2 separate regions of the Homo sapiens genome follow, and region 1 is reported to be linked to region 2. The links are microRNA targets in miRTarBase. Many come from high-throughput screens and were not tested one by one. Region 2 holds a microRNA gene; the other region holds the end of a gene's coding sequence.
The links. Region 2 holds the annotated microRNA hsa-miR-6724-5p (CUGGGCCCGCGGCGGGCGUGGGG, at 1,900-1,922, shown strand). A microRNA usually pairs through its seed, bases 2 to 8, with sites in the 3' UTR of a target mRNA and lowers its output. Matches are read on the target gene's strand: a 7mer-m8 pairs with bases 2 to 8, a 7mer-A1 pairs with bases 2 to 7 and ends in A, and an 8mer does both.

Region 1: miRTarBase lists OSCAR as a target of hsa-miR-6724-5p. The part of its 3' UTR that is shown has no 7-base or 8-base seed match.

Annotation. Positions count from the first base shown.
Region 1 is chr19:54,091,564-54,095,937 of GRCh38, reverse strand. OSCAR (osteoclast associated Ig-like receptor) reads left to right here. Exons shown (of 5, transcript NM_133169.6): 4 at 1-66; 5 at 581-1,270. The coding sequence ends at 717. Among named protein-coding and RNA genes, the nearest start is that of OSCAR, 7.1 kb to the left of the region's middle.
Region 2 is chr21:8,247,616-8,251,989 of GRCh38, forward strand. MIR6724-2 (microRNA 6724-2) reads left to right here and starts at 1,890; the gene lies at 1,890-1,981.

The DNA of each region.
Region 1 (4,374 bases), not on the chromosome of region 2:
ATCACACGCCCTCCGCGCCCTACGTGCTGTCGCAGCGCAGCGAGGTGCTGGTCATCAGCTGGGAAGGTGAGGGCCCTGAGGCCCGGCCCGCCTCCTCCGCCCCAGGAATGCAGGCCCCAGGACCTCCGCCCTCAGACCCAGGAGCCCAGGCCCCCAGCCTCTCCTCCTTCAGACCCAGGGGTCTAGTCCTGCAGCCCCTCCTCCCTCAGACCCAGGATTCCTGGGACCCAGCCCCTCCTCCCTCAGATCCAGGAGTCTAGTCCTCCAGCTCCTCCTCCCTCAGACCCAGGATTCCCGGGCCCCAGTACCTCCTCCCTCAGACCCAGGACTCCAGGCCCCCAGCCCCTCCTTCCTGGACCCAGGACTCCAGGCCCCCAGCCCCTCCTTCCTGATCCAGCAGTCCAGGCCCCAGCCCCTTCTTCCTGGACCCAGGAGTTGAAGCCTCCATCGACTCCCCCTCAACTTTGAGACTGTAGAGTCAGGTCCCTAAGTCCACCCCAGGGGCTGGAAACCTGGAGTTCAGGGCCCAGACTTTGGGGTCCGGGAGCTGATGGCCCCTCTCTCCCGGCTCCGCCCGCAGACTCTGGCTCCTCCGACTACACCCGGGGGAACCTAGTCCGCCTGGGGCTGGCCGGGCTGGTCCTCATCTCCCTGGGCGCGCTGGTCACTTTTGACTGGCGCAGTCAGAACCGCGCTCCTGCTGGTATCCGCCCCTGAGCCCCAGGAGCACTGCAGCCCGAGACTTCCAACCTGAGTGGCGGAGAAGCTGGGACCCTGGGCTGGACTGTCCTTTCCTGCAGCCCCACAGTCCTGCTGGCTGAGCTCCGCGGAACGGTCCTTAGACCCCGCTGTGCCCTGTGCTGTAGCTTCTTTCCAGGCCTTTCCCAAGGAGTAGCTGAAAGGAAGACGCGATTAGTGGTTAAGACTTCCAAGCCAGAAGACAGAGGGTTCGAATCCCAGCACTGCCGTCTACTCACTGTAGTAGTAGCAGCTACAGAAAGGTAGTAGTGAGACGTGAAGCCAGCTGGACTTCCTGGGTTGAATGGGGACCTGGAGAACTTTTCTGTCTTACAAGAGGATTGTAAAATGGACCAATCAGCACTCTGTAAGATGGACCAATCAGCGCTCTGTAAAATGGACCAATCAGCAGGACACGGGCGGGGACAATAAGGGAATAAAAGCTGGCGAGCGCGGCACCCCACCAGAGTCTGCTTCCACGTTGTGGGAGCTTTGTTCTCTTGCTCTACACAATAAATCTTGCTGCTGCTAACTCTTTAGGTCCGTGCCATCTTTAAGCGCTGTAACACTCACCACGAAGGTCCCTGGCTCCATTCTTAAAGTCAGCGAGACCACAAACCCACAGGAAGGAACCAACTCTGGACACGGTAGCAGCATTCAGAAAGCGCCCTTCCCCAACTCTCTCTTGCCTTGACGGTAAAATGGATGCACTGATAAAACCCACTTCATAGGATTGTTGTAGGAGTCAGTGGGTAATACACATAAAACATTTAAAGCAGTAACTGGCCCGTAGTAAGTGTTCAATAAATGTTAGCTACCCTGTAACACCGATTTCTACCAGACTCAGTGCCGAAAGGAAGGTCTCACCTTTTTGCCATCAAGCATAATCAAGCACGACTTTTTCTTTCTTTCTTTCTTTCTTTTTTTTGAGAGAAGATCTCACTCCACCCAGGCTGGAGTGCAGTGGCGTGATCTCGGTTCACTGCAACATCCGCCTCCCGGGTTCAAGTGATTCTCGTGCCTCAGTCTCCTGAGTAGCTGGGATTACAGGTGTGCGCCATCACGCCCAGCTAATTTTTGTATTTTTAGTAGAGATGGAGTTTTGCCAAATTGGCCAGGGTGGTCTCGAACTCCTGACCTCAAGTGATCCACCTGCCTCGGCCTCCCGAATAGCTGGGATTACAGGTGCGTACCACCATGTCCGGCTAATGTTTGTATTTTTAGTAGAGACGGGGTTTCACCATGTTGACCAGACTGGTCTTGAACTCCTGACCTCAAGTGATCCGCCCGCCTCAAGAACTGAATTTTGAAGTCTAATTAGCCACCTGGGGGCGCTAACGTGTTGAAAAGACGGGAGGAGAGACTGAGCGGGTCTTCCGGGGTTTGATCTCAGTGCCAGAGGGGCCTTGGTAGAACATATGTGGGACAACCTCCCCGGCATATGTGGCTGTGGGAAATAATAACAATTTTAAAAAAGGAATAAGCCGGGGGTGCTGGCTCACACCTGTGATCCTAGCACTTTGGGAGGCTGAGGCAGGTGGATCACGAAGTCAGAAGTTCGAGACCAGCCTGGACAACATGGTAAAACCCCGTCTCTACTAAAAATACAAAAATTAGCCGGGCATGGTGGCGGGCGCCTGTAATCCCAGCTACTCGGGAGGCTGAGGCAGGAGAATTGCTTGAACCCAGGAGGCGGAGGTTGTAGTGAGCCGAGATTGCATCACTGCACACTCCAGCCTGGGTGACAGAGCAAAACTCCGTCTCAAAAAAAAAAAAAAAAAAAAAAGAATAAAGAAGAGACGCAGGTTATAAGGAAGGCACCAGACCTGGATGAGGCTGTGATGTCATCAAATCCAGTCTTCCCACTTTATAAATGGGAAAATGGTGGAAAGAGAGGTGATATTAAGTTTACCTAAACATGTACAGGAAGTCAGTGGCACATCAGGGAGTCTTTTTTTTTCCTTTTTCCCTCTTTTTTTATTTTATTTTATTTTATTTTATTTTTTTTGAGGTGGACTTTCGCTCTTGTTGCCCAGGCTGGAGTGCAATGGCGCCATCTCGGCTCACCACAACCTCCGCCTCCCAGGTTCAAGTGATTCTCCTGCCTCAGCCTCCCGAGTAGCTGGGATTACAGGTGTGAGCCACCACACCTGGCTAATTTTGTATTTTGAGTAGAAACAGGGTTTCTCTGTGTAGGTCAGGCTGGCCTCGAACTCCCAAACTCAGGTGATCCGCCCGCCTCAGCCTCCCAAAGTGCTGGGATTACAGGCATGAGCCACCGTGCCCGGCCCTCTTTTTTTTAAAATGTATTTCCACCCAAAGCAGAGAAAAAGAAGTCTTGGCCGAGTTTGTACTTCAACTTAACTCCATGTATTCATCCATTCAATCACTCCTTCATTCACCATTCACTCATTCATGTCTAGCATTGATTCTCATCCTTATTCATTTCTATTGAGCATCTCTTTTTCCTTTGCTTTCATTTGTACATTTGTCTATTTCATTTGTCCTTATCCATCATGCATTCATTCATATTTCCATCCATTTACCCATCCATTTCTTCATTAACCAGTTTTTAATCCACTGAACTATTTATTCATTCAATATCCATCTATCTACCTGTGCATTTATCTATCCAATAAGCTTGAGATTTTTTTTCTTTTTGAGATGGAGTCTTGCTCTGTTTCCCAGGTTGGAGTGCAGTGTTGTGATCTCAGCTCACTACAATCTCCACCTCCCGGGTTCAAACGATTCTCCTGCCTCAGCCTCCCAAGTAGCTGGGATTACAGGCACCTGCCACCATGCCCGGCTAATTTTGTGTTTTTAGTAGAGATGGGGTTTCACCATGTTGGCCAGGCTGTTCTCGAACGCTTGACCTAAAGTGATCCATCTGCCCACCTTGGTCTCCCTTTAAAGTGCTGGGATTACAAGCGTGAGCCACTGCACCCAGCTGAGATTTCTTCATAGCAGTTTACCAGTGACCAGTGTTCAATGAATGCTTATTGAGTGAGTTGTAGTCACAATGCTTATTTCATTTTCTACCACTGAACATCTTTTCATACTGGTCATTTTGCTGGGTGATCCACATAGGTTATTTCTGATCTTTATCAACAGCCCCCAAGTCACACAGAAGTGCTTAACTTGGGACTTGTCTGTGTGGTTAGACTGCTGGGTCTTTTCCCCCTGTTCCTGCCTCTTAAAGCAATGACAACACTGCCATCACCACGCCTGGCCAATTTATTATTACTATTATTATTATTATTTTTTTTTGAGATGGAGTCTCGCTCTGTTGCCAGGCTGTAGTGCAATGACGCGATCTCGGCTCACTGCAACCTCCGCCTCCTGGGTTCAAGCGATTCTCCTGCCTCGGCCTCCCGAGTAGCTGGGATTACAGGCGTGTGCCACCACCACGCCCAGCTAACTTTTGTATTTTTAGTAGAGATGGGGTTTCACCATGTTGGCCAGGATGGTCTCGATCTATTGACCTCGTGATCCACCCGCCTCGGCCTCCCAAAGTGCTGGAATTACAGGCGTGAGCCACCGCGCCCGGCTAATTGTTTACTTTTTATAGCTATGGGGTCTCACCATGTTGTCCAGGCTGGTCTTGAATGCCTGGCCTCAAGCCATCCTCCTTCCTTG
Region 2 (4,374 bases):
TTCTTTCTTTCTTTTGTTTCTTTCTTTCTTGCTTCCTTGTTTTCTTGCTTTCTTGCTTGCTTGCTTTCGTGCTTTCTTGTTTTCTTGCTTTCTTTCTTTTGTTTCTTTCTTGCTTGCTTTCTTGCTTCCTTGTTTTCTTGCTTTCTTGCTTGCTTGCTTTCGTGCTTTCTTTCTTGCTTTCTTTTCTTTCTTTCTTTTCTTTTTCTTTCTTTCTTGCTTTCTTTTCTTTCATTCATTCATTCTTTCTTTCTTTCCTTTCTTTCTTTCTTTCTTTCTATCTTTCTTTCTTTCTTTCTTTCTGTTTCGTCCTTTTGAGACAGAGTTTCACTCTTGTTTCCACGGCTAGAGTGCAATGGCGCGATCTTGGCTCACCGCACCTTCCGCCTCCCGGGTTCGAGCGCTTCTCCTGCCTCAGCCTCCCGATTAGCGGGGATTACAGGGAGGCACCCCCACGCCTGGCTTGGCTGATGTTTGTGTTTTTAGTAGGCACGCCGTGTCTCTCCATGTTGCTCAGGCTGGTCTCCAACTCCCGACCTCCTGTGATGCGCCCACCTCGGCCTCTCGAAGTGCTGGGATGACGGGCGTGAGCCACCGTGCCCGGCCTGTTGACTCATTTCGCTTTTTTATTTCTTTCGTTTCCACGCGTTTACTTATATGTATTAATGTAAACGTTTCTGTACGCTTATATGCAAACAACGACAACGTGTATCTCTGCATTGAATACTCTTGCGTATGGTAAATACGTATCGGTTGTATGGAAATAGACTTCTGTATGATAGATGTAGGTGTCTGTGTTATACAAATAAATACACATCGCTCTATAAAGAAGGGATCGTCGATAAAGACGTTTATTTTACGTATGAAAAGCGTCGTATTTATGTGTGTAAATGAACGAGCGTACGTAGTTATCTCTGTTTTCTTTCTTCCTCTCCTTCGTGTTTTTCTTCCTTCCTTTCTTCCTTTCTCTCCTTCTTTAGGTTTTTCTTCCTCTCTTCCTTTCCTTCTTTCTCTCTTTCTGTCCTTTTTTCCTTCGTGCTTTATTTCTCTTTCGTTCCCTGTGTTTCCTTCTTTTTTCTTTCCTCTCTGTTTCTTTTTCCCTTCTTTCCTTCGTTTCTTTCCTCATTCTTTCTCTCTTTTTCGTGTTTCTTTCCTTCCCGTCTGTCTTTTAAAAAATGGAGTGTTTCAGAAGTTTACTTTGTGTATCTACGTTTTCTAAATTGTCTCTCTTTTCTCCATTGTCTTCCTCCCTCCCTCCCTCCCTCCCTCCCTGCTCCCTTCCCTCCCTCCTTCCCTTTCGCCATCTGTCTCTTTTCCCCACTCCCCTCCCCCCGTCTGTCTCTGCGTGGATTCCGGAAGAGCCTACGCATTCTGCCTCTCCGTGTGTCTGCAGCGACCCGCGACCGAGTCCTTGTGTGTTCTTTCTCCCTCCCTCCCTCCCTCCCTCCCTCCCTCCCTGCTTCCGAGAGGCATCTCCAAACACCCACGCGCCGTGGGTTGTCTTCTGACTCTGTCGCGGTCGAGGCAGAGACGCGTTTTGGGCACCGTTTGTGTGGGGTTGGGGCAGAGGGGCTGCGTTTTCGGCCTCGGGAAGAGCTTCTCGACTCACGGTTTCGCTTTCGCGGTCCACGGGCCGCCCTGCCAGCCGGATCTGTCTCGCTGACGTCCGCGGCGGTTGTCGGGCTCCATCTGGCGGCCGCTTTGAGATCGTGCTCTCGGCTTCCGGAGCTGCGGTGGCAGCTGCCGAGGGAGGGGACCGTCCCCGCTGTGAGCTAGGCAGAGCTCCGGAAAGCCCCGGTCGTCAGCCCGGCTGGCCCGGTGGCGCCAGAGCTGTGGCGCGTCGCTTGTGAGTCACAGCTCTGGCGTGCAGGTTTATGTGGGGGAGAGGCTGTCGCTGCGCTTCTGGGCCCGCGGCGGGCGTGGGGCTGCCCGGGCCGGTCGACCAGCGCGCCGTAGCTCCCGAGGCCCGAGCCGCGACCCGCGGGGACCCGCCGCGCGTGGCGCGGGAGGCTGGGGACGCCCTTCCCGGCCCGGTCGCGGGTCCGCGCTCATCCTGGCCGTCTGAGGCGGCGGCCGAATTCGTTTCCGAGTCCCCGTGGGGAGCCGGGGACCGTCCCGCCCCCGTCCCCCGGGTGCCGGGGAGCGGTCCCCGGGCCGGGCCGCGGTCCCTCTGCCGCGATCCTTTCTGGCGAGTCCCCGTGCGGAGTCGGAGAGCGCTCCCTGAGCGCGCGTGCGGCCCGAGAGGTCGCGCCTGGCCGGCCTTCGGTCCCTCGTGTGTCCCGGTCGTAGGAGGGGCCGGCCGAAAATGCTTCCGGCTCCCGCTCTGGAGACACGGGCCGGCCCCCTGCGTGTGGCACGGGCGGCCGGGAGGGCGTCCCCGGCCCGGCGCTGCTCCCGCGTGTGTCCTGGGGTTGACCAGAGGGCCCCGGGCGCTCCGTGTGTGGCTGCGATGGTGGCGTTTTTGGGGACAGGTGTCCGTGTCGCGCGTCGCCTGGGCCGGCGGCGTGGTCGGTGACGCGACCTCCCGGCCCCGGGGGAGGTATATCTTTCGCTCCGAGTCGGCATTTTGGGCCGCCGGGTTATTGCTGACACGCTGTCCTCTGGCGACCTGTCGCTGGAGAGGTTGGGCCTCCGGATGCGCGCGGGGCTCTGGCCTACCGGTGACCCGGCTAGCCGGCCGCGCTCCTGCTTGAGCCGCCTGCCGGGGCCCGCGGGCCTGCTGTTCTCTCGCGCGTCCGAGCGTCCCGACTCCCGGTGCCGGCCCGGGTCCGGGTCTCTGACCCACCCGGGGGCGGCGGGGAAGGCGGCGAGGGCCACCGTGCCCCCGTGCGCTCTCCGCTGCGGGCGCCCGGGGCGGCCGCGACAACCCCACCCCGCTGGCTCCGTGCCGTGCGTGTCAGGCGTTCTCGTCTCCGCGGGGTTGTCCGCCGCCCCTTCCCCGGAGTGGGGGGTTGGCCGGAGCCGATCGGCTCGCTGGCCGGCCGGCCGGCCTCCGCTCCCGGGGGGCTCTTCGTGATCGATGTGGTGACGTCGTGCTCTCCCGGGCCGGGTCCGAGCCGCGACGGGCGAGGGGCGGACGTTCGTGGCGAACGGGACCGTCCTTCTCGCTCCGCCCCGCGGGGGTCCCCTCGTCTCTCCTCTCCCCGCCCGCCGGCGGTGCGTGTGGGAAGGCGTGGGGTGCGGACCCCGGCCCGACCTCGCCGTCCCGCCCGCCGCCTTCTGCGTCGCGGGTGCGGGCCGGCGGGGTCCTCTGACGCGGCAGACAGCCCTCGCTGTCGCCTCCAGTGGTTGTCGACTTGCGGGCGGCCCCCCTCCGCGGCGGTGGGGGTGCCGTCCCGCCGGCCCGTCGTGCTGCCCTCTCGGGGGGTTTGCGCGAGCGTCGGCTCCGCCTGGGCCCTTGCGGTGCTCCTGGAGCGCTCCGGGTTGTCCCTCAGGTGCCCGAGGCCGAACGGTGGTGTGTCGTTCCCGCCCCCGGCGCCCCCTCCTCCGGTCGCCGCCGCGGTGTCCGCGCGTGGGTCCTGAGGGAGCTCGTCGGTGTGGGGTTCGGGGCGGTTTGAGTGAGACGAGACGAGACGCGCCCCTCCCACGCGGGGAAGGGCGCCCGCCTGCTCTCGGTGAGCGCACGTCCCGTGCTCCCCTCTGGCGGGTGCGCGCGGGCCGTGTGAGCGATCGCGGTGGGTTCGGGCCGGTGTGACGCGTGCGCCGGCCGGCCGCCGAGGGGCTGCCGTTCTGCCTCCGACCGGTCGTGTGTGGGTTGACTTCGGAGGCGCTCTGCCTCGGAAGGAAGGAGGTGGGTGGACGGGGGGGCCTGGTGGGGTTGCGCGCACGCGCGCACCGGCCGGGCCCCCGCCCTGAACGCGAACGCTCGAGGTGGCCGCGCGCAGGTGTTTCCTCGTACCGCAGGGCCCCCTCCCTTCCCCAGGCGTCCCTCGGCGCCTCTGCGGGCCCGAGGAGGAGCGGCTGGCGGGTGGGGGGAGTGTGACCCACCCTCGGTGAGAAAAGCCTTCTCTAGCGATCTGAGAGGCGTGCCTTGGGGGTACCGGATCCCCCGGGCCGCCGCCTCTGTCTCTGCCTCCGTTATGGTAGCGCTGCCGTAGCGACCCGCTCGCAGAGGACCCTCCTCCGCTTCCCCCTCGACGGGGTTGGGGGGGAGAAGCGAGGGTTCCGCCGGCCACCGCGGTGGTGGCCGAGTGCGGCTCGTCGCCTACTGTGGCCCGCGCCTCCCCCTTCCGAGTCGGGGGAGGATCCCGCCGGGCCGGGCCCGGCGTCCCAGCGGGTTGGGACGCGGCGGCCGGCGGGCGGTGGGTGTGCGCGCCCGGCGCTCTGTCCGGCGCGTGACTCCCTCCGCCGCGAGTCGGCTCTCCGCCCGCTCCCGTG